3 linked regions of the Homo sapiens genome follow. The protein of the gene in region 3 interacts with the protein of the main gene of each other region in a pairwise test. Each region holds a gene or a part of one and is shown on either strand. Other genes may lie near its edges.

Evidence for each region. Proteins that work in one complex are often made in the same cells at the same time.
Region 1: the proteins of TTC19 (region 3) and FTO interact in binary tests that used the Homo sapiens proteins (3 or more experiments, as listed by UniProt).
Region 2: the proteins of TTC19 (region 3) and MXRA8 interact in binary tests that used the Homo sapiens proteins (3 or more experiments, as listed by UniProt).

Annotation. Positions count from the first base shown.
Region 1 is NC_000016.10:53,699,722-53,707,155, forward strand, and holds the start of FTO (alpha-ketoglutarate-dependent dioxygenase FTO), read left to right. Parts: upstream 1-4,434; 5' UTR 4,435-4,463; coding exon 4,464-4,508; intron 4,509-7,434. Other genes in the region: RPGRIP1L (protein fantom), read right to left, coding at 918-1,002.
Region 2 is NC_000001.11:1,355,556-1,363,139, forward strand, and holds the start of MXRA8 (matrix remodeling-associated protein 8 isoform 2 precursor), read right to left. Parts: upstream 3,001-7,584; 5' UTR 2,950-3,000; coding exon 2,901-2,949; intron 1,150-2,900; coding exon 1,126-1,149; intron 198-1,125; coding exon 1-197.
Region 3 is NC_000017.11:16,023,468-16,030,278, reverse strand, and holds the end of TTC19 (tetratricopeptide repeat protein 19, mitochondrial isoform 1 precursor), read right to left. Parts: intron 5,263-6,811; coding exon 5,108-5,262; intron 3,740-5,107; coding exon 3,577-3,739; intron 2,906-3,576; coding exon 2,757-2,905; 3' UTR 875-2,756; downstream 1-874. UniProt on the Homo sapiens protein: Required for the preservation of the structural and functional integrity of mitochondrial respiratory complex III by allowing the physiological turnover of the Rieske protein UQCRFS1.

The sequences.
Region 1 (7,434 bases), on a different chromosome or scaffold from region 3:
GCAGGAGAATCGCTTAAATCCGGGAGGCGGAGGTTGTAGTGAGCGGAGGTCGCGCCACTGCACTCCAGCCTGGGCGACAGAGCGAGACTTCGTCTCAAAAAAAAAAAAAAAAAAAAAAATTTCTGTGTAGCCAAATTTTATCTTTTTCAATAAACAATACATTGACCACTTTTCTGGTTTTCACAGTGGCCATTTACACTGTTCTGATTGAAAAGTGTATGTAGATTCCTAAATGGAATGTATCTTAAATCCCTAGCCTTCTCAGGCTAGAGGGGGATTTTACGTTTTCTATGAGCTGTTGATAATCGATACATGCATGACAGCATAGCTGACACAATGGACACACAAAGATAAACACAGCTCTCTGTTCTAAATTGTTCTTTAAAGTAGTGCTTTTCTTTCTCAATTTGAAAGTGCTTTTTAGCTCTACAGCAACTACTAAGTGATAAAAGGATAAAGAAAACCTTTAATCCATATTAATTCGATAAAAAAGTCACTATCATGTGAGATATTCCACTTAAAAGGCAAAACACTTAAAATACGGCCTTTCCTCCCATATAAAATTTAAACACAAAGAAATGTTTTAACACTGAATGTAATTTAAACCAGGCAATTCAGTTTGGAGGCTTGATACTCTCTATGTAGTTTCTACTGATGTGAGGAATTTTAAAAAGATGATTTATGTTAATTCTTTATCAGAACAGAGGGGGGACTGTACATTTTCTATGAGCTGTTGATAACTGATGCATGTAGTAAAATACCATATGTGTTCTAAACTCTCCATCTTTTTGTTTAGTCCAATCAAGGACTATATAGTTACTTAAATGGTTTGGTTTGTATGAGTATAAGAAATACTTTAAATTAAAAGTAGTCAGTGATCAAAGTTCATAACTGTAATAAATAACAGCTGGCCATACCTTGTAACCCTCCCATTCCAAAGAGGTTTAGACCTGTATCTTTCACAGGCAAGTCTCCTGCAGTCTCATCAGTTGGACCAGACATGGCCTAGCTGTGGAAAAAAGAAAATTCAAATAAACTCTTTCCAAATTATTACATTAACTATGCAATGGAATGAACCAAATAAAACGAAAAAGGGACTAGAACTTTAATGGGCATCTTATTGTCCACATGTGCTGCTTGGAGAAGATGAAAGCTTCTATTCTAATAGTACTACTACATTCAGTCATGGAGACAGTGTTCCTTTCAACAGTGTATTTCCTATAGTTTGCTTAGGAAATGAAGTAAGATTATCATTTAAGAAATACCTCCTCTCCATCCCTTTCCTCTCCCCAGCCTCCAAAAGAAAGCAGATATCTTGGAAAAAACTCAGGTCAGGAACTTGATTCAAATGGTTGCTCTATCATTAACAAACTAGTCAAGCCACCTAAACTCTCTGAGTTTCAGTCTCTCAGTTTTAAAAATGGAGAAAATAATACCTATCTCAGAGAGTTATTCTAAGGGTAAATGGGATGAGTAAATTAAAAGCACTGATCACATGTGCCTGGGATGTCAATATTACTCAAATATTGTCTGCTTGATGTACAAATGAGTGGGCAGTTCTGTGCATTTTGTGAGTTTTGTGAAAGAGGTTTCGTTGCATAAATTTACCAACTGGGTTTGTGTTTTTTTGTGTGTGTGTCTTGCCTTTGTTGCCATGAGGCCTAGGTCTCACCCAGGGTTCAACTACTTCAACATATAGGCTCTCTAGCTAATTCTAGTATTTTTGTAGTTTCTATTCTTTACAGAAATACACCATAGTAACTCTATTTTGAGTATGGATGTGAGTGGTCCACACAATATCTAGTATGCAAAAATAAAGGATTTTATATTTTCATTTCAATCTACCTAGTAAGCTACATGCAAACTGTGAATGAAGATACTCTAAAGGGCAGAGTTCTTAAGCTCTAGGATATTGGTTCTAGAATGTAAAGACCAAGACAGTAGCAAGCTTCATTGTCTTGTTCAGCTCTGTATTCTTGGAGGCTAGCATAGAGCGTGGTGCATTCTGAGAGCAGGCATTCATTAAATAGTTGTTGAGTGAGTGAATGGAGTCCATGGGGTTTCAGGGTCTGTGAACCCAGAGATGGTTTACCAAATTTTGTATGTATATGTATATATGCAATATCTTTTAAAGAGGGTTCATAACTTTTATTACAACTCGCAAATGGTGGAGAACCATTGCATTTTGCTTTTACAGAAACAGCTAACAGACAAATCCTTGGGAGATCATCTACTTCTTTTGGAAGTACTCCTATAGAAAAGGTCAATTTTTAGGATCCTGTTGACACATAGGCCCGTGTATGAAAATGATTAGTTTTCCATGACAGAGTTAAGGTCACTTTAAAAATAATAATGATGATGATGATGATGATGGTGTTAACATTCATTGAACGCTTACTATGTGCCAGGTACTGTTCTAAGTGTTCTGTTATAGGAATGAAGTGTCTCACCATATCCTTGTGAGGCTGTTACTCAAATGATTCCTGCTTTACAAATGAGGAAGCTGAGACACAGATTAGTTAACTCACTTAAGGTGGTAGTTGAAAGTATTAATAGTTGTGTCTGGTGATATTTTTGGTTGTCACAACAAGGAAGCGGGATGCTACTGGCATCTAGTGAGTAGAGGCCATGGATGATGCTAAATATCTTACAGTGCTTAGGAGACATAATAATGAATTATCCAGCCCAAAATGTTAATAATAGTGTAGAAGCTGAAAAACCCTGCACAATGCTGCAATGCCTCTCCAACACCATCTTATGTTATCCTTCTTTGCTCACTATGCTTCACTTACATTATTCTTTACTTTCCTCGAACCCCCCATACCCTTGTCTTGCTCAAGGCCTTTGTATTAGCTGGTTCCTTAATCTTTGGAGCTCAGTTCACTTCCTCAGACAGGTTTTCCCTGACCATCCTATGTTAGAGTAGTCTTCCTTACATTTCTTCACTGTTTATTTCTTTTCTTTTCTTTTTTTTTTTTTTGAGACAGGGTCTTGCTATGTTGCCCGGGCTGGCCTTGAATTCATGGGTTCAAGTGATCCTCCCACCTCAGCCTCCCGAGTAGCTGGAACTACATGTGCGTGCCACCAAGCATGGCTTGTATCTCTTATAGCAACTGCCTCTATCTGAAGTTATCAGATAAAATTATTGTTTGTCTCCACTAAAAAAGGATAAACATCTTGAGACGGGTATTAGTCTTGTTCACAACTGTTCAGGAACAGTGCCTGGTACAGGGTGGGAACCAACATTAATATTTATTGAATGATTGGCTGTGCGTGGTGGCTCACACCTGTAATCCCAGCACTTTGCGAGGCCGAGACGGGCGGCTGACTTCAGGCCAGGAGTTCGAGACCAGCCTGGCCAACATGATGAAACCCTGTCTCTACTAAAAATACAAAAATTAGCTGGGTGTGGTGGCACACGCCTGTAATCCCAGCTACTCGGGAGGCTGAGGCAGAAGAATCGCTTGAACCTGGGAGGAGGAGTTTGCAGTAAGCTGAGGTCTTACCACTGCACTCCAGCCTGGGCAACGGAGCAAGAACCTGTCACACACACAAAAAAAAGAATAAAGAAAAAATATTTATTGAATGAATAAATGAATATCAGGTACTGAGATTAAAATGGCAAGCAAAACCCCCGCCTTTATGAAGCTAGCAAGTTATGGAGGTAATCACATGATAAACAAATAATATATAATTAAGCAAACAATAGACCACTCAGGAGGTTTAGGGTCTACCAACCAACTCCTAATCCAGGGCAAATGAGCAAACTGTGTTAGGGACCTACAACTTGCAGGATCTGGATAGAGATGGCAATTAGCAGCATCAACTCTCACCTTCATGGCTGGGATATAACATTTCAAATTGGTCCTGGACGTGGGGATAAAGGGCGGCCTGTGATTCAGGCCTGAGGATGTGGAGGTGTCTTGGGCTGGGCTGCTTTCACGCCAGCAGAACTCCAGGGCCAACTCCAGGGCCTTCTCCAGGCGGCAGAGCGGACCCTAGGACCCCGGCCCGCGCTGCAGTGGGGAGGGTCAGCAACCTCCACCCACCCTCATCCTCCCCCATCCTCCCGGGTACTCACCGTGCCACTGGCCCTGCAGCTAGCTACCGTTGCTATAGCGCCGACAGCGTGGCGGGCGGCTGGCCGAGAGGAGCACGGGAGAAACATGGCAGGCTCCCGTAGCCTCCTGGGAAATGTAGTTCTCCTTGGACTCTAGCCTGTTTGCTCGCGGGGTAGCGGACTACGCTCTTCCAGCTGTCGGACCTGGGAAATTCTCCTGTGCTAAATCCCGTGGCGCTCGCGGGTGTCGCCGCGGTGCATCCTGGGAGTTGTAGTTTTTTCTACTCAGAGGGAGAATAGCTCCAGACGGGAGCAGGACGCTGAGAGAACTACATGCAGGAGGCGGGGTCCAGGGCGAGGGATCTACGCAGCTTGCGGTGGCGAAGGCGGCTTTAGTGGCAGCATGAAGCGCACCCCGACTGCCGAGGAACGAGAGCGCGAAGCTAAGGTATGTCGGGCTCCCGGGGCCTGGAGATCTTCGTGCGCTGTGAGCAAGGATCAGGGAACCGGAAGGGCTTGGTTTGATGGCGAGCGGATGCGCGGTGTTAAACTAAGGGATGACAGGGCCTTGTCAGCAAGGGACCTGGAGATATTAGAGGGGATGTTACAAATTCGTGCTCTTCAGGATGCAGGCCGAGTCTTGTTGGATCGGCTCAAAAATGAGAAGCAAGATACCCATTTCCTTGTCCTTCTTCTGCATCTATTCCTTGGTTAAATTTGTCGCCATCCCTGTGCCTCAGTTTACCGGATTCTCAGATGACTGTGATCATACCAGCTGTGCTTTCTCATAATGGTCTCTGAGGACTGAGATCGGCTTAGATGAAATATCTGTGCAGTCAGCTGTGTTTCTTTGGAACAATTGTCTCCGTGACCGGCTGATAACAGTTTGTGTCTTTTAGCGCTGTGGATATGAATCTTTAACTACATTGCTCCTCTCTACCTTTGATGTTCAGCTTCTGGTAGTTGCCATTCCATGGGATGACCATAATAATGGCAACAGAGATTTTAAAAAGCATTTATTGTGGGTCAGGCACTGTATTAAGTGCATAATATTTAAATTATTTCATATCATTGTCACAGCAGATTGCAAGATAGATATTATACAGATGGAGTATAAATAACAGCCCAGCTTCACAGATGAAGAACTGAGGCTCAGAAGCATTGAGTGTTTTCCTTTCTCTCATTCCCAAACTCAGATCCTGTTGATTTGTCTACGTATATTGGGAATATGCCCACTTTTTTTTTTTTTCATCTCCACTACCTTGGACCAAGCTACCATTATCTTTTTAATAGACTGTTGGAATAGCCTATTGATTGGCCTACACTCACTCTACACCCTAACTTAACTCTTCTTCCACCTTCTCTCCCTTCCCTCAACTACCATTCTCTTCTGCACACCATAGAGTAAGATCTTCGTGAAATGCAAATATAATTATGTCCCTTTCCTTTCTCCTTACTCTGCCAACCACCTGTTTAAAAATATTCCATGGCTTTCTGTTGCTCTTAGGATAAAGGCAAAACTTCACATTGCCTACAAGATCCTGCATGATCTGGACCCTACCTGCTTTCACAACCCCATTGGATATGACACTCTGCTCTCTGCCTACCAGTCACTTTGGCCTTCTTAAAAGTCACTCTTCACTATACTTTATCGGGCTTCAGGGCCTTTGCACATGTCATTTGCTGCCTACTCTATGTTAGGCAAATATTGGCAGTGAATAACAGTGTTAAATAACGTAGACACAGTTCTTGCTTTCATAGAATTTCATCTTACACGTGAGTCTGTTTAGGGCAATACACCTAAGGATTTAAAATATAAAATCTGCTCTATATTGACCTGAGTTATTGCAGTATTTCGTAAGGGACCAGAAGTTTTCATGCTTGAGTCTGCATATGATGTGGATAATATATTAAAGATAAGCACAAAGAGGGCGACCCTTCTGCTTTAGTCTACACAGTGCAAAGAAACAAATGTCACCTCATGGTGTTGTGCATGATGTCTTTCTCATCTTTCAGGTTTATTTTTAAAGTATTTCATTTATTCTGTGAAGATTTGTTGAGCACCTATTATTTGCCATAAGTTGGGATTATAATTTTGGCTGAAATAGAATCACTGCACCAAAGAAGCTCTTACTCTATTGAAACCATAACCATTGCCTGTGAGGGAGTTACTAGTGTCATCCATATTTTAGAGATTTAGAAACTGAGACTTGTAGGTAAATCGTGACTTGCCCAAGGCCACTTGGTTGCTAGGTGAAACTAGTGCTCTGAGCCAGGTCTTCTGACTCCAAATTCAAGGCTTTTCCCATTTTCTGCTTGTGAAACATGTTGAATTAGTAGAGCAAATTGTCTTCCTTTTTTCTTTAAAAAATTGGCTGTTCATTTAAAATTTGTTTGCTTAATATTATTTGTTAGAACAAAGTATAAGTAGTTGTTTTAAATCTTAAATGTAAAGTGTCCAATGGCTCATGAATTATCTTCTCTTTTTCTAATCAATTTTATTGAGGTATAATTTACATACAGTCATTTGCAACCATTTTTGTGTACAATTTGATGCCTTTTGACAAATGTATATACCTGCAAAACCACCACAGTTGGCATAGCGAACATTTCTCTCCTAAGTTCCCTCTCGTTAATTTGTGGTTAGTCTGTCCCTCCACCTTGGCCCCCAAACAACCACTGATATGTTTTTTGTCTCTGTAGATGCATCTGTATTTTCTAGATTTCATATAAATGGAAGCATACAGTGTATACTTTTGGGTCTTTTTTTCATTCAGCGTAATGATTTTTTTTTCAAAATAGAGATGGTGTCTTGCTGTGTTGCCCAAGTTGGTCTGGAACTCCTGGGCTGAAGCCGTCCTCCTGCCTCTGCTACCCAAAGTACTGGGATTATAGGCGTGAGCCACTGTGCCTGGCCAGCATAATGGTTTTTGAGATTAATCCATGTTGTTGTATGTATCCATAATTTGTTCCTTTTTATCGCAAATTAGTGGCCCACTGTATGGAGATACCACATGTTGTTTATTCATTCACTTGTTGCTGGACATTAGGATTGTTTCTGGTTTTGGACTCTTATGAAAAAAGCTGTTTTTACCATTCATGTATGAGTCTTTCCATTTTCATTTCTGTCAAAAAAAGCTGCTATGACCATTCACCTAAGAGTCTTTACATTTTTATTTCTGTCGGGTAATGCCCAGGAGTAGAATTGCTTAGTTATAGGGGAGTTCTTTGTTTAACCTTATGAAGAAATTACCAGTTTTCCGAAGTGATTTGACCATTTGTTTTAGTTTCTTATGGCTGCTGCAACAAGTTACCACAAACTTGGTGGCTTAAAACAACAGAAATTTATTATCTTACAGTTCTGGAGATGAGGC
Region 2 (7,584 bases), on a different chromosome or scaffold from region 3:
GTCCAGCAGGCGCCGCGCGGGGCCACCCCCGGGGCCGCGCAGGTCCCAGTGGAGCACGCGCTGGCGGTCGTGCAGCCGGTCCTGGGTCCACACCATGCGCGGGCTCTGGCAGCGCAGCACCGCCCGGGCGCCCGCCTCCCAGCTCACCGCGGACTCGGACACCACGGAGCTGCCAGCAGCGGCGGGTACCGAGGACCCTGGTGGGGGAGGGGAGTCGGTGGGGGAAGGGGTGGGCCCCCTAGGGCCCTGGTTGGGGGAGTCAGTGGGGGAGGGGCAGGGCCCTGGTGGGGGAGGGATGTCTGTAAGGGACGGGCAGGACCAGAGGGCCCTGGTGGTGGAGGGGAAGTCCGTGGGGTGGGGCAGACCCCCGAGGGCCTGGATAGGGGAGGGGGAGTCACTGGGGGAGGGGCGGACCCTGATGGTCCTGATGGGGGAGGGTGAATCAGTGGGGGAGGGGCGGGCTCTGAGGACCCTGGTGGAGGAGGAGGAGTAACTGGGGGAGGGGTGTGCCCCAAGGACTCTGGCGGGGTTGGGGGCATCTTTGGGGGGGTGTGGGCCCCTGAGGCCCCTCGTGGTGGGGGAGATTCCATGGGGGAGGGGCATGCCCCCTAGGGCCCATGTGGGGGAAGGGGAATCATTGGGGGAGTGGTGGACCCCCGAGGGCCCTGGCAGGGGAGGGGGAGTCCATGGGGGAGGGCAAGTCAGTCGGGGAGACATGGGGCCCAAGGACCCTAGTGGGGGATGGGGAGTCCATGGGGGAGTGGTGGGCCCCGAGGGCCCTGGTGGGGAAGGGGACTCAGTAGGGGAGGGGCAGACCCCGAAGGCCCTGGTTGGGGAAGGGGAGTCAGTGGGGGCATCTGTGGGGGAGGGGTGGGCCCCCGAGGGCCCTGGTGGGTGTGCGGGAGTCTGTGGGGGAGGGCCAGGCCCCCAAGGGCCCTGGTAGGGGAAGAGGAGTCATTGGGGGAGGGGGAGTTATTGGCAAGGGGAGGTGCCCAAGGGTCCTGATGAGCAAGGGGGAATCAGTGGGGGAGGGGCAGGGCCTGAGGACCCCCGGGGGCTGGGCCTGGCAAGATAGGAGGGGCTGAGGGGGAGTGGGGGTGGGCAGCTGGGGCTGGGGTCACTAACCTGAGTGCAGGAGAACAGCAGAGCCTGGAAGGAGAGGAGTGAGCTGGAGAGGCCACCCACAGCCCCACCCAGCCCCGAGACCCCCCACTTGGCCCCCAGAGTCCCTCCTGTAGTCCCAAAGTGGATGCTGTGACACCCACTTCAGTGCAGGGAGGACGCCTCTCACACAGACCTACATAGCCCTCCCTGCCACCGTGCTGGGCTTTGGATGGCACCTGCCCTTGAGTGGGGAAGCCAGGGCATGGGCGTGGGCCAGGGCCAGGCTCCAAGCCAGCCGGTTCTGGGGTGTGTGCTTGTCACCGGGGCCACTCCACCTGGCTGCACCCAAGTCACCCAGAGCACCAAGGAGGCTGGATCTGTGGGTTCCCCCACGCTCCCTCCAGGGCTGTGCCCCAGCCCCCGAGGGTCCTTGGACCCTCAGACGCTGGGGACCCCACACCACACCTAAGGCTCAGCGCAGCCCCTGAGGTGCTTCCGCAGGGCAGAGGCCTGAAGGCTGAATGTGGGTCGTGACCCCGGCTGCCGCCCCACAGGCCCGCGTTGCTGCTTGAGGGACTCTCATTGTCGTAGGCCGCCTCGGCATCCACTCTGAATCTAGGCTGGACTTTCTCTGACCGGAAGCGGGGCTGCCACCCGGGACAGTTTCCAATTCACATCCCCCGTCCTCGAGCTGATCCACCCAGACGCCCGCCCTACGCACTGTCCCCTGGTGACCACCCCCTGTGTCCCCACAGACCCCACGCCCCACATGGACTGTGCAGCTGCACCACGGAGTCCCCCCACAGTCAGCGTGGCCCCACGGGGCTCGTGCCGCTTGCCTTAAACCCACCAGTTAAAACTCCCCCACCAGGCATGGTGGCTCACGCCTGTAATCCCAGCACTTTGGGAGGCCAAGGCAGGTGGATCACCTGAGGTCAGGAATTCAAGACCAGCCTGGCCAATATGAAAAACCCCATCTGTACTAAAAATACAAAAAATTAGCCGGACGGGGTGGTAGTGGGCGCCTATAGTCCCAGCTACTTGGGAGGCCGAGGCAAGAAAATGACTTGAACCCGGGAGGTGGAGGTTGCAGTGAGCCGAGATCACGCCACTGCACTGCAGCCTCCTTGGCGAGAGAGAAACTGCCTCCAAAAAAATTCCCTGAGGGAAACCTGTATGCAGAACGCCCTGATCCCAATAAAGGGTTGGCCTGGGGGTCCCTGTCTCTCTCCACTTTCCCTGGCCTCCCAGCAGTCTGTGCACCCCAGGGCCCGTGGGTGATAAAAGCTGTTTCTATCCTGTGTCTCTAGATCACTGGGGGCTGCTCTCCCTCACATAGATCCTATGTGAAAACTGCCCCAGAGATGTGGCCGAGAGCCTGGGAGCTTCCCAGAGGAATGTGCCCGGTCAGCAGCCAGCCCAGGCCTGGGAGCGGGGGCTGGAACAGACCCCACAGTTCTCAGGTCCCCTTCAATCACTGACCCACTCCCTAAACAGAGCCCCAGCAAGAGGGGCTGCAGGAGGGGCCCCGAGGGAGACGCCGCCGTGCCTGGGCCCCCAGCCCTTCTTGGCCCTCTGGGCTTCAACTCCCTAGGAGGGGAGGCTGGCCAAAGTCTAACTGAAGACGTCACAGCCTCTGGCAAGCGGCTCTCCCGAGCGCCCCCAGACCCGTCCTCTTCCCTGGTGGGACCTTCCCACTCCTCCTGGCCCAAGCTCAGATGGGCGGTTTTGTCCGAAACGGACTCGCACAGCCCCACGTGCCACCCCCCACCCGCCTCCCAGGGCCCCACACTCACTCTGCAGAAGCACAAGTTTCCAAAGCAGGATTCGGGATGGCAGCGCCATGGCCCCCGCCCAGCCCCAGGCTTTGTCCCACTCGGCTCTAAGTCTCTCTCCAGAAAAACAGCCCTACCCCCTCCCCCTCCTTAGCACCCGCGGTGACATCACGGAGGCCTGGGCCTGTCTACGGTCTGGGGACCGCCCCCTCTGGCTCCTGCCGGGCCCCTTGGCCTCCCCCATCGTTGCTGGCCTGCTGGGGAGGGGCAGTGTGGGAGCAGAGGCCCAGCCCCTCACCGGTCAGGCCTGGGGAGGGGTGGTGACCGCACCCTTGGAGGGACAAGAAGGTCCGAGGACATGGGCCCCTGATACCACGTGATCGTGTCTCACGTCTAGGAGCCTCCCGGGCCTGTGGTGAAGGGTTGGGACTGTTGGGTGAGTGGCCCCTCCGCCCCACCTCTGGCCTCCCCCCACGTGAGCCACCTCAGGGCAGGGTCCTCCCCTCAGTCTGCTCCAGGCCCCAGAAAGGCCTCCCAGCGCTGAGACCGCCCCCACCCACGGTGCACGCTGGTGCTCTCCTTCAGACCAGATGGCCCTTCCAGCTCCAACCCTTGGCCCTGCATGACCTTGGTACCCGTCTCCTCTGGGGGCCACGGTGGGCTCCCTTGGGCCAGGATGATGGACGCTGCCAGTCACTAGTCCCCTTTACAACCTGGAGAGTCAGCCAGGGACAGGGGACCCTGAGCACTGGGAGGCCTGGGGGTGCTGGGGTGAGCAGACCTCTCCCTGCTGGCCCCGTCCCCTGGGGCTGCCCGCCTTTAGGGTGCAGCCTGGTGTCCCTGAAACCAGGTGCTGGATTACAAGCCTCCTGGAGAAAGGGGAGAGTGGGACCCCTGCCATGGAAGGCACAAATTTGAAACTGTGGGAAAACTTACAAAGTCACATAAACAAATGCGAAATAACAGCCTGCACTGTGTAGCAAACCCAACTCCTTCTAATCAAGCAAACCTCAAGAAAAAACAATCTGAACAACCACAACCACTAGAAACCCTCAGTGCATAGTTCCGCCCGCCCACTTGGAGTGAGCTCTCCTTACAGGCCCCGAGGGCCCCAGCTGGGTGGGGGGCTCACCCCTGAACCCTGCTCTGGTGCCCAAGTCCTCAGACAGTGGGAAGCCCAGTGCAGATCAGAGTGGTGGTCTCAGGGCGAGGGGAGGGGAACCTGCGGCTGCTCCAGTGAGAGGAACGGGCAGGACACGGACCGGCGTAAGGACAGAAGACCCCACCCCACCCCAGCCCGGTCAGACCCATTTCCTCAGCAGGGTCCTGGCCCGGGCGGCGACCTTTCCAAACTGGCTTCAGGGCTGAACACATCCCGCCACCCCCACTCCCTCCCTGGGCCTTTCATTCTGGAAAAACAAGCCCCACCTGGCTGGCCTCGAGGCCTCTGCTGGCCTCTCCTCCTGTTTTTCCAACTGGTTTGTATTAGTGCTGGCAGCTGCCCGCCCGCCCATGTCTGTCTCCGTCGCACACTCTGGGGCCTTGGCCTCTGCAGTCTCTGTCTCCTTCCGTCACTCTCCCTGTTCCCTCTCTCCCCATGGAGGGAGGACGGACAGCAGTTTGGTGGGGGGACAGGGTTGGCCCTCGGGTCTGGGAGGGCCCGGCTCTGGGTGCAGGGCTGAGAGGGGCGCCTGGTCCGCACGACAGCCTCAGGCCAGGGCTCGCCTCACTCTGCAGGGCCGTCCCTCTCCGGGCAGTGGCCTCCAGCCACACTTTCGGGGACCCAGCCAGCGGAGATGCAGGCCAGAGGCTGTCGTCTGAGAGGGCCCTGACCTCTGAGAGGGCCACCTGGGGGCAGCTGACCCCCATGGGGCCCTGGGCAAGGAACAAAAGGCTGATGAGGCCATCAGGCCCCTTCCCTGACCCTCCCTGTCCGGCCCTCAGTGGGAAACAGCCACAGAGAAGAGCAGGCCTGGTAGTGACCAGGTCACCTGCTCCTCCCAGGGCCAGTGACCTGTGCCTCTTCTGCACCTTCCTGGGCTGGGACTGTGGAGCCTCTGCTCGCTGGGGGGTGGTCTGCAGAGCTGTGGGTGTGTGACTTAATTCCCAGCCTGGCCTGGCATTTTTCTCCCTCTGGGAAGAGGACAAACCAGGACAAAGCCACTGGCATCACTGTGCTCTGGCTAAGCCCCCAGCCAAACCAGCGCCCTGGACCGTCCTCCTAGCCCCACCTCTGGGGGTTGGGGTGGAGCAAGAGGGGTCAGCTGGCCCCACGGCCCGCACTGAGGATCTGATCTTGGCTGCCATTCCTGGTGACTCGGACATTCCAGGCAGCCCGTCTCATTGGGAAGAAAAACCACAGGCACTCAGAGCCACAAGCAGCACAGCCAAGCCCATATTCACTCCCATGAGTGTGCACAGACACATGCACACACACACAAAGACACACATGGAGACACACAGAGATACACACGCATGCACACGAAGACACATGGAGACACAGACACGCATGCACATGAAGACACGGAGACACACAGAGATACACGGAAACACAGACACATGCACACACGCGAAGACACAGACACATACACATGCATGCACATGAAGACACGGAGACACAGATACATGGAAACACGAACACAGACATGCGCACACACGACACACATGGAGACACGCATGCATGCACATGAAGACACACGGACACACAGAGAAGATACACGGAAACACAAACACACAGACACAGGTCCACACACAGAAACAGAGACACACACAGACACACATGGAAAGACACACACAGAGACACGGACCTGTGGCCGCACAGCGGATCATCGATGGCTGAAGAGTCCCACTTCCTGTCGTTCAGAAGCGTTTGCTGACCACCTCCTGGGTGCCAGGCTTGCTGGGCACTGGGGACTCAGCACTAAGCCGGGTGCCAGCCATGGCCCTCTTGGACCCCAGCCTCCTGGACTGTGCTGCATGTGGTGGAGGGAATGAGACAGGGGTCGGGGGGCGCCCAGGCTGGAGGGGCGAGGACGGACGGACCCAAGGAAGCAACCTCTGTGACAGCAAATGCCAGGCGAGGCCTGAGGACGCGGCTTCCAGGCGCAGCCAGTGGCGGGGCTGCCAGGAGTGGTCTTGGGACGCCAGGGACCCTGTGTGTGTGGTAGGGGGGCCACTGCTGACACCAACACAGACAGGGTTAGGCTCGAGGACAAACCGTATTCGCCGCCGCCGCACCTGCCACGCACATCGGAAGCGTTAGCACAGTTTTCCCTGCGTGGGGCTGGGTCTCCTACCCAGGCTGAGTTTCTCCCCTCTAAGAGGAAACACCGCCAGCCTTCTTTCTCCTACGGCCTTTGGATTCTGAAAACTCGCTGTGGGGAGGGACGTGAGGCTTCGGCACCAGGAACCCCTGCGGGCTAAGACGGTGTTGGCCAATCACATCCAGTCACTCTCCTGGGAAAGTCACTTTTATGGAGACAGCCCCCCAAGGGGGTCTCAAGATATATTGAAGTTTTGGTTAGTTATGTATGCTGACTAAATTTACAAGTAAACTTGTTTATCAAAAACAAAAGAAAATGTGTTAATCCGTTATAGCCGCTTGTGGCGACTGTTCCCGGCCATGTCCCTGGCTGACTGTTTTCCTGCTGATCCTGACCAGCGTCCCCGGCAGCCATGGCCTGCATTCGTGTTGGTCCCTCCTCCTGCAGCCCCGAGGAGGCAGGGCTGTCTGTGGATCCCAGATCGGTTGTCGGAAGGCCCGGAAGAGGAGAGCTGCCCTCCACCACCACTGTCTCCTCCTCCTGGACAACAGAGTCAGGACACTGCTGAGATGGGGTGAAGCATAATTGTTGCACTGAGACTCAAAACTACAGGCAAGAAGGTTTGAAAATACAGAAACATTTCACAAATCATCTGCCTCCTCTCGAGTAGTATCTGGCTTGTTCTAAACATGCAAATGCAGTGAGACGGGCTGCCTGGTACACACACATCGCCCCGGAATCATGACCTTAGGCCCCAGGGCCACCTTCTGTAATTTTTTTTTTTTAAGCCACAAAGTCTCGGCCAGGCAAGATGGTTCACGCCTGTAATCCCAGCACTTTGGGAGGCCAAGGTGGGCAGATCACCTGAGGTCAGGAGTTCAAGACCATCCTGGCCAACATGGTGAAACCCTGTCTCTACTAAAAATACAAAAAATTAGCCAGGCGTGGTGGCAGGTGCCTGTAGTCCCAGCTACTTGGGAGGCTGAGGCAAGAGAATTACTTGAACCCGGGAGGTGGAGGTTGCAGTGAGCCGAGATCGTGCCGTTGCATTCCAGCCTGGGAAACAGAGTGAGACTCCATCTCAAAAAAAAAAAAAAAAAAAAGGGTTGGGCGCGGTGGCTCACATCGGTAATCCCAGCACCTTGGGAGGCCGAGGTGGGTGGATCACAAGGTCAAGAGATGGAGACCATCCTGGCCAACATGGTGAAACCCCGTCTCTACTAAAAATACAAAAAATTAGCCAGGCGTGGTGGCAGGTGCCTGTAGTTCCAGCTACTTGGGAGGCTGAGGCAGGAGAATCACTTGAACCTGGGGGATGGAGGTTGCAGTCAGCCGAGATTGCACCACTGCACTCCAGCCTGGTGATAGGGCGAGACTCCGTCTCAAAAAAAAAAAAAGAAAGGAGTGAAACCCCATCTCTACTAAAAATACAAAAATTATCC
Region 3 (6,811 bases):
CTTCTCATCCTCAGCCTATTCAACATGAAGATGACAAGGATGAAGACCTTCATGATGATCCACTTCCACTTAATGAATAGTAAATATATTTTCTCTTCCTTATAATCTTAACAAACATTTTCTCTTCTCTAGCTTACTTTATTGTAAGAATACAGTATATAATACATATACAAAATATGTGTCAATCGACTATGTTATCCGTAAGACTTCTGGTCAGCAGTAGGCCATGAGTAGTTAAGTTTTGGAGGAGTCAAAGTTAGATGTGGATTTTTGACTACTTAGGGGGTCTATGCCCCTAACTCCTGCATTATTTGAAGGTCAACCGTATAGTTTCTGAGAACATGTCAGATCAGAGCCTAACTTCTTACTCTTGCAGTTCTACCTGAGGACCCGAAGGTGAGGTGCTGTGAACCACTCCCTCCATCCTCATCATAATGCATGTGCGTATTACTTTATTTACCATCACCTGGAGAAGAAATCTCAGAATGAGAGTTAAAATCCAATAATAGTTCTTGGTTCAAAATAAATGAAAGGACAGAATTCTCACATGGTTTACCTATGGAGGTTCACCTTATCATGATTTAAGTGGTAAGCACAGAGCAGCACTGACAACTTACTGTGGTTCACTGCAAACCAAAACATGATATTCTTTGTAGACTTAGATTTCAGTGTTCTGACACTATATCCTTACACGTGATTTTTTTAGCACCCAGAACTAAATTAAGGTCTTCCTAATACTCTTCATAAAAGTATTCTGACAGCCAGTTTTCCACTGCATGTTTATGACTGCAAATTTCATAATGCTTTTAATTTTGGTACACTGAGTGATTCTATTTTAAAAATATTTATGCCCAGAAAACTCCAGTGACCATTGGACAGTTAAAAAATTTTAATGACACGATTTTAACCAATTCACTTTTGAATTTAGACCAATCAGTAAAGGAGATCAGTCCTCCTTTTGCTTCAGTACCTTATTTTACAACAGTGTAAATGAACTGTAATGAAAACACCCACATGAAGAGACTGTCCTGAAAACTCCTAGTGTTTCCAACAACGAGACCATGAGCTGAGTCACTGTGGATGATTTAAAATTAATAAATAAATAAAACTTGGAATGAAAAACCTTTCAGTAACCCCTGCAGTTGTGAAAAGGTAAAAACATTCTCAATGCAAAAGGTGAGTGGTTGACATTAATTTTTTTAAGAAATCACCATACGTTAATACTGGTTTCTACTGAAACAGTCTGATTTATATTGTATCTTATCTCTCTGAGCTAGACTTGGTAAACGGCATTAGCTGCATGGTAAATAATATGAGATTAGACAGAAAATAGGAAGAAATTTACATCTGCAACATACAAAACTCTAGTTTTAGTCTAATCCCTGAGGATTTGGACCTCAAGGTTTCTGGTGTTTTTATTTTCTTCAGAAAGTTTTTTTTTTTTTTTTTTTTTTTTTTTTGAGAAATGCAAAGATTACTGGGATACATACAATATTGTTGTGTAGTCTCATTTATTATGAAGATTCTTCCAGTATGTACATACGAACCAAAAGTATCAGTTTATCAGTCCCACTCACATCCCACCCCCACAGGCATACCAACAGGGTCAATCTTCCTTCATGGTACCTAGAAAAACTGTCTTTTTCCTTAGGTAAATGGCTAAAAATGTATTCATGACTGCTGCAGTAAGAGCATCCACCTATGTATCTTTACATACTTTGAGACAGTGTGATAAAGCTCTTTCAGCACAGCAGTCTATTCATTCAAAGTCATCTAACCAAATACCTTCCCCCACAGCTAAGAAAGAATCCCAGTGTTTCCCTAGTTTAGAGATGAAGATACTGAAATTGCAAAAGCAAAAAGGCTAGGACTAAGATCCAGGTCAGTAGTTCAGCTATACCAGCAGTACACATTAGAATTACGAAGAGTTTTAAAATATACCTGTAGGGGCCTATTCTGACTCAGAACAGCCTGGGCTGTGTGTCCTTAAAGAGTACTTGAGATGACTCAGTTGTGTGACTAAGGCTGCAAAGGAAGTAGAGTGTTCAGATAACACAGACAAAAGGTTACATCATTCTTAGTTTTTAGTTTTATATAAACACCCCCATTTTTAGTTTTATATAACCAGATAAATATGGTTCACTTTTATTTAAATTCAAATGGGTGCTATACTGTCACGTGCCTAATCCCCACTTTACAACTTCATGCTGGATGCTGGTAGCAAACTAAGATATTTTTCTCTTTTATGTATTAAATTCCACTTGTGCTTCATGAAACAGACTATAAGAACAACAATTCACCATAATCCCCCTTTGCCATGAGGAAGGTAATTCTGGTCAGTTTGCCAGGTATTGATAAAGTAAAGTAAGAGAAGACAGGGCAGCAAATCAGCAGACCAAAAACTTATGGTAGAAATGCCAGGCTGAATCACCACACCCACAGCGCACAGGAACACCAGCCCATATGAATCTACAGTTCTACTTAGACCAGCAGGGACAGCACCAAGTCACGTGTTACAACTGAAAGCATCACTTGACGACATCCTGAAAGGTCATAATCAGTTGGGAATGAAAGTCATTTTTCCTTTAAAATACAAAAATGGCAGTGTGTACAACCCCTCCTTCACTAAGGCTAAATTGAGGAAACCTGAATATCAAAAACGACAGATTTAAGCCATTGATCGGGTGCCACAGAGACAGGAATGATAGCTATTCTTCCACATTACTAGACATTATTCTCCCTACACAAAAATGGATTTAGAGCTTGACAGAATTTGTCAAAGGTCTACTTTTCTTTGACAGCTCAGCCAACTCTTCCCTGATGTGTTGTACAGAAATTTCATCTTTTTTCAGCTTTGCTTGCTTCAGTGCTTCCTGGTAGATCTCTTTTGCTTGTGTATATCGTTCTAAAATAACCCAGAGAGAAGGGACAGTAAGAAGAAAGTGTATGTTTTCAAGGTGATTCTGAAGAGAGAGCATGAATGCAGATATAGGGCTAATTTACTGTGTGCTTATGAAGCGACAAGCTGGTGCTGCCTCATTTCATCCCCATCTGACAGGCTGGAACTCCACTGAATGCTGTGGGATTCCTAACGGCCCTTTCCAGTATATCCTGAGGACTTTGATGAGCCCAAGATTTCATGAATGGTGGTATGTGTAATACACCTGTCATCCCAGGTTTCTGAAAATGATCGGTATAGTGTGCTGACACTAAGAAATGTCTGACAAAATGATACTTCCTGTCATAAAGCTTCACCAGCACACTGTGAGAAACACATTGTAACTGAACACATTTAGAAATCTGTAAAGCACTACTGACGTAAGGTACTATCATTGCAAGGTTTTCTCCAGCTTGATGGGGTTCGACAGGCTAGTGCAGGTCTGTAGAAGTTACGTGAATTGAACACAATAGTACTTCAACCTAATCAATACCTCCTTTTTCTGCCATTCAACCAGTCTTTTAATTTACATGTTTATTCGTTGGCCCTTGCCCTCCCTACATACCACTTCACAAATCTATCAATCCAGTGACATCCCTCCCTTAAAGCAAGTCAGTTAAGTTTACATTGCTACCTACCTCTGTGCATCAAAACTGCAGCTAGATTACTGAGTACCATGTGTAGCTCAGGATGATTTATCTGTCTTGCCAGATCTGATGCCCTTTGCATATAAATATAGGCCTCATCAAAGCGGCCCTGTGCATCCAGGGTAGTAGCCAGGTCACTCATCAGCACAATGGTCTGTATGTAAAAGAAAAAACAATTTTTTCTTTAAAAACATGCCTTCACAGAACTTTAATGTGGAGTGCATCCAACTCTGAATACATAAGATTTCATCTTTCCTAGCATTCCACAAAAGATGAGGGATACCATTCTTTAACAAATTTGTGGGCATTTGTTAATCATAATCACATTGTACAGTGGACAATGTTAGTTCGACCTTTTGGGAAATAATACAAATCTGGAAATTAGGTAACAGACAGTGCTTATTAATCCAACTAATTACCCAGTTAGAAGCACCAAATGAAAAACAACAGCAAGAAGCTACACATATTATCTCCTTTAAGGCTGAGCAACTTTGAGAAGCCAGCCTCCTATGGTTTGATTGCCTCTGGAGCCCCACTGTATTATGTTGTTCCTGCTGATAACCCTGAGGCTCATCAAAAACAAGAAATACACCATCTATTTTAGGAAGATGCCCAGTAGGAGTTTTTTTAATTTGGCTACTGAAATGGAATTTCAGTATGGAAGAGGTAGACTTCCATACCTACTTCCCCACTGATGCCATGCTTTAAGCCCCCTGACTCTAGTACTTGGAGATCTGAATTCTGTACTTGCTTGTTTATTATTCCTCACTCCATTAAGGGACTCTTCATAATAAGTTATAAATCCCTTTCATGGAGATAATTCATAGCTCAACCTCCCTTTTCTTCCAAAACATATTACTCACCCTACCCATGTACCCCAGCCTTGGGACACATTCAGTTAAAATTGTTATGTCTTATATTGGCAGTAGCAAGCATTCATAGACAAAGCAATGCACTCCTTACATCTAAGAACTTACTCGGATGGAGGGGAGACCCAAAGAGATGATTTCAATTCAATGTGTTTAATGTTCTAACACAGAGCTTTACACGTTATACTTAAATTCTATAATATGCCAATGGTTTAAGTGTTTTTAATGTGGTCCCTTGCCCTTCCCTCACCTCTTGCCATTTTAACTGTGGGGCAAGGGAGGCAAGGATATTTGTGTATTAAACCGTTCCTCATAAGCTTCTAATAGGGGTATCTAGAGACCCCACTCTGAAATACTGTGCTGTGTCCATTGAAGCCTGACCAGTCCTGCTCTGTAGAAAGGTTGCTCTGTTGTGCAAACCATGGATCATGCAAAAAGTTCTGGGCAGACCTAGTAACTGATAACTAGTCTCAAATCCTTTCTGAAACAAGTAGTTGGGGTGAGGGTGCTGGTGATAAGAAAATGAGTAGACTGGGGACCAAGGAGGATCTAGGACCATCTGCTGATCCTGTTACCAATGAGTGTGACATTTCACACCCTTCAATTTTGAAGCCTTTGTTTTATATTCCCCCTTCTGTGTTTTCCTCCCTTACCTGTGGGTGTCTTTCTCCTTGTATTTCTTCAGAAATCTGCAGAGCTTTTTCATACATCCTTTGTGCCTGTGACGGCTGCTTGGAGAACAGAAGGTAGCGAGCACAGGCGTCTAAGCACATGCCCAAGAGGAGGTGGGTATTGGCTTTCTCTTCCACTAAGGAGAAAAGAGGAATCAGCAAATCTACCCAAATGGTTGTTACCAGGACCCACAAATATGTCAGCAGAATGGGACCCACATGTCACTTAGGGAACAATGTAGGTGAATTAACATCCAGTTAAATGACCTATTCCAGACTAGCTGGAATCATGGAACTTCAGCCCACATTTTAAGTAGATTAAGAGTCCGCACATCAATTAAAATGTGGAATGTTATTTTTAGTTTGAAACAAATAATATTCAGCAGAAACAAATGAAAATAAACCCAAAGAAGAATGAGTTAACAACAAAAAGTCAAGGCCAATGAAAAACCTGTATGGTATAAGAAAAACAATGCAGGAAGAAGACAGAGAACACTCAGAATCCTGAAGTGCAAAGTCACAAGCTGAATTTAAAGAATTCAACGTAAAGGCCGGGCGCGGTGGCTCACACCTGTAATCACAGCACTTTGGGAGGCCGAGGCGGGTGGATCACAAGGTCAGGAGATTGAGACCATCCTGGCTAACATGGTGAAACCCCGTCTCTACTAAAAATACAAAAAAAAAAAAAAAATTAGCCAGGCGTGGTGGCGGGTACCTGTAGTCCCAGCTACTCAGGAGGCTGAGGCAGGGGAATGGCGTGAACCCAGGAGGTGGAGCTTGCAGTGAGCCGAGATCACACCACTGCACTCCAGCCTGGGCGACAGAGCAAGACTCAGTCTCAAAAGAAAAAAAAAGAAAAAAAAGAATTTAAGGTAAAATTTAAACAAGCTAATCATTCAGAGAAGAAGAATAAAGCTTACAATGACATAGCACCTCTCAACACATTCAAGAATTGACTATACGATGTCTGAAAAAAAACAAGCTTAAAATACCTAATGCCATGTAAGAAGAATTGGAGACACAGATCTAGAGAACGGTAACCTATATCAACCTGGGTAAGACTTCTAAAAGATGATACAAATAATGTAGAAATGGTCATAAGCAAGATTATATGGAAATTCTGCCAACAACTCAGCAGGAGGTAACTGTTCACACAATAAAAGACTAGAAAAAGAGGTTACCTTAGATAATCTTAGGTTCAGTTGGGTTTATTTACCAGCAAAGCTGTCGTTCATATCAAGCCCGTTCCCTTCTATGTCTTCAGTTTTCAGAAATCTTACAAGTGGCATAGAGTTTAAGGAAGACTATGTTACTAAAATGAGACTTTTCTTTTTTAATACCTTCCCATTTAGAAAAAAAGTGCAGCTTGCTTCTATATCGCTTACCTAATTTTACATAAATATACTCTTTGAGGCTGGAGCAAATCTGATTTTCAATGTGAAAATAAACTATTAAAAGTGTTCTTGGAGTTATTTCTACAGAGAACTAACACCAGAATCGTCTGTATCATCAGACTCGTCTATTTCTGAAAAATCGGATTCATCAAATGAATCTTCAACCAACAACTATTCGAGAATGATGTTAACATCACGCGTAGGCATGCTATGTTTTCTAGGATTTGACGTCTTCAGCGATCAAGAATTACTGTATTTTGTAAATGGAAATACCACTACTAAAAACAGAATG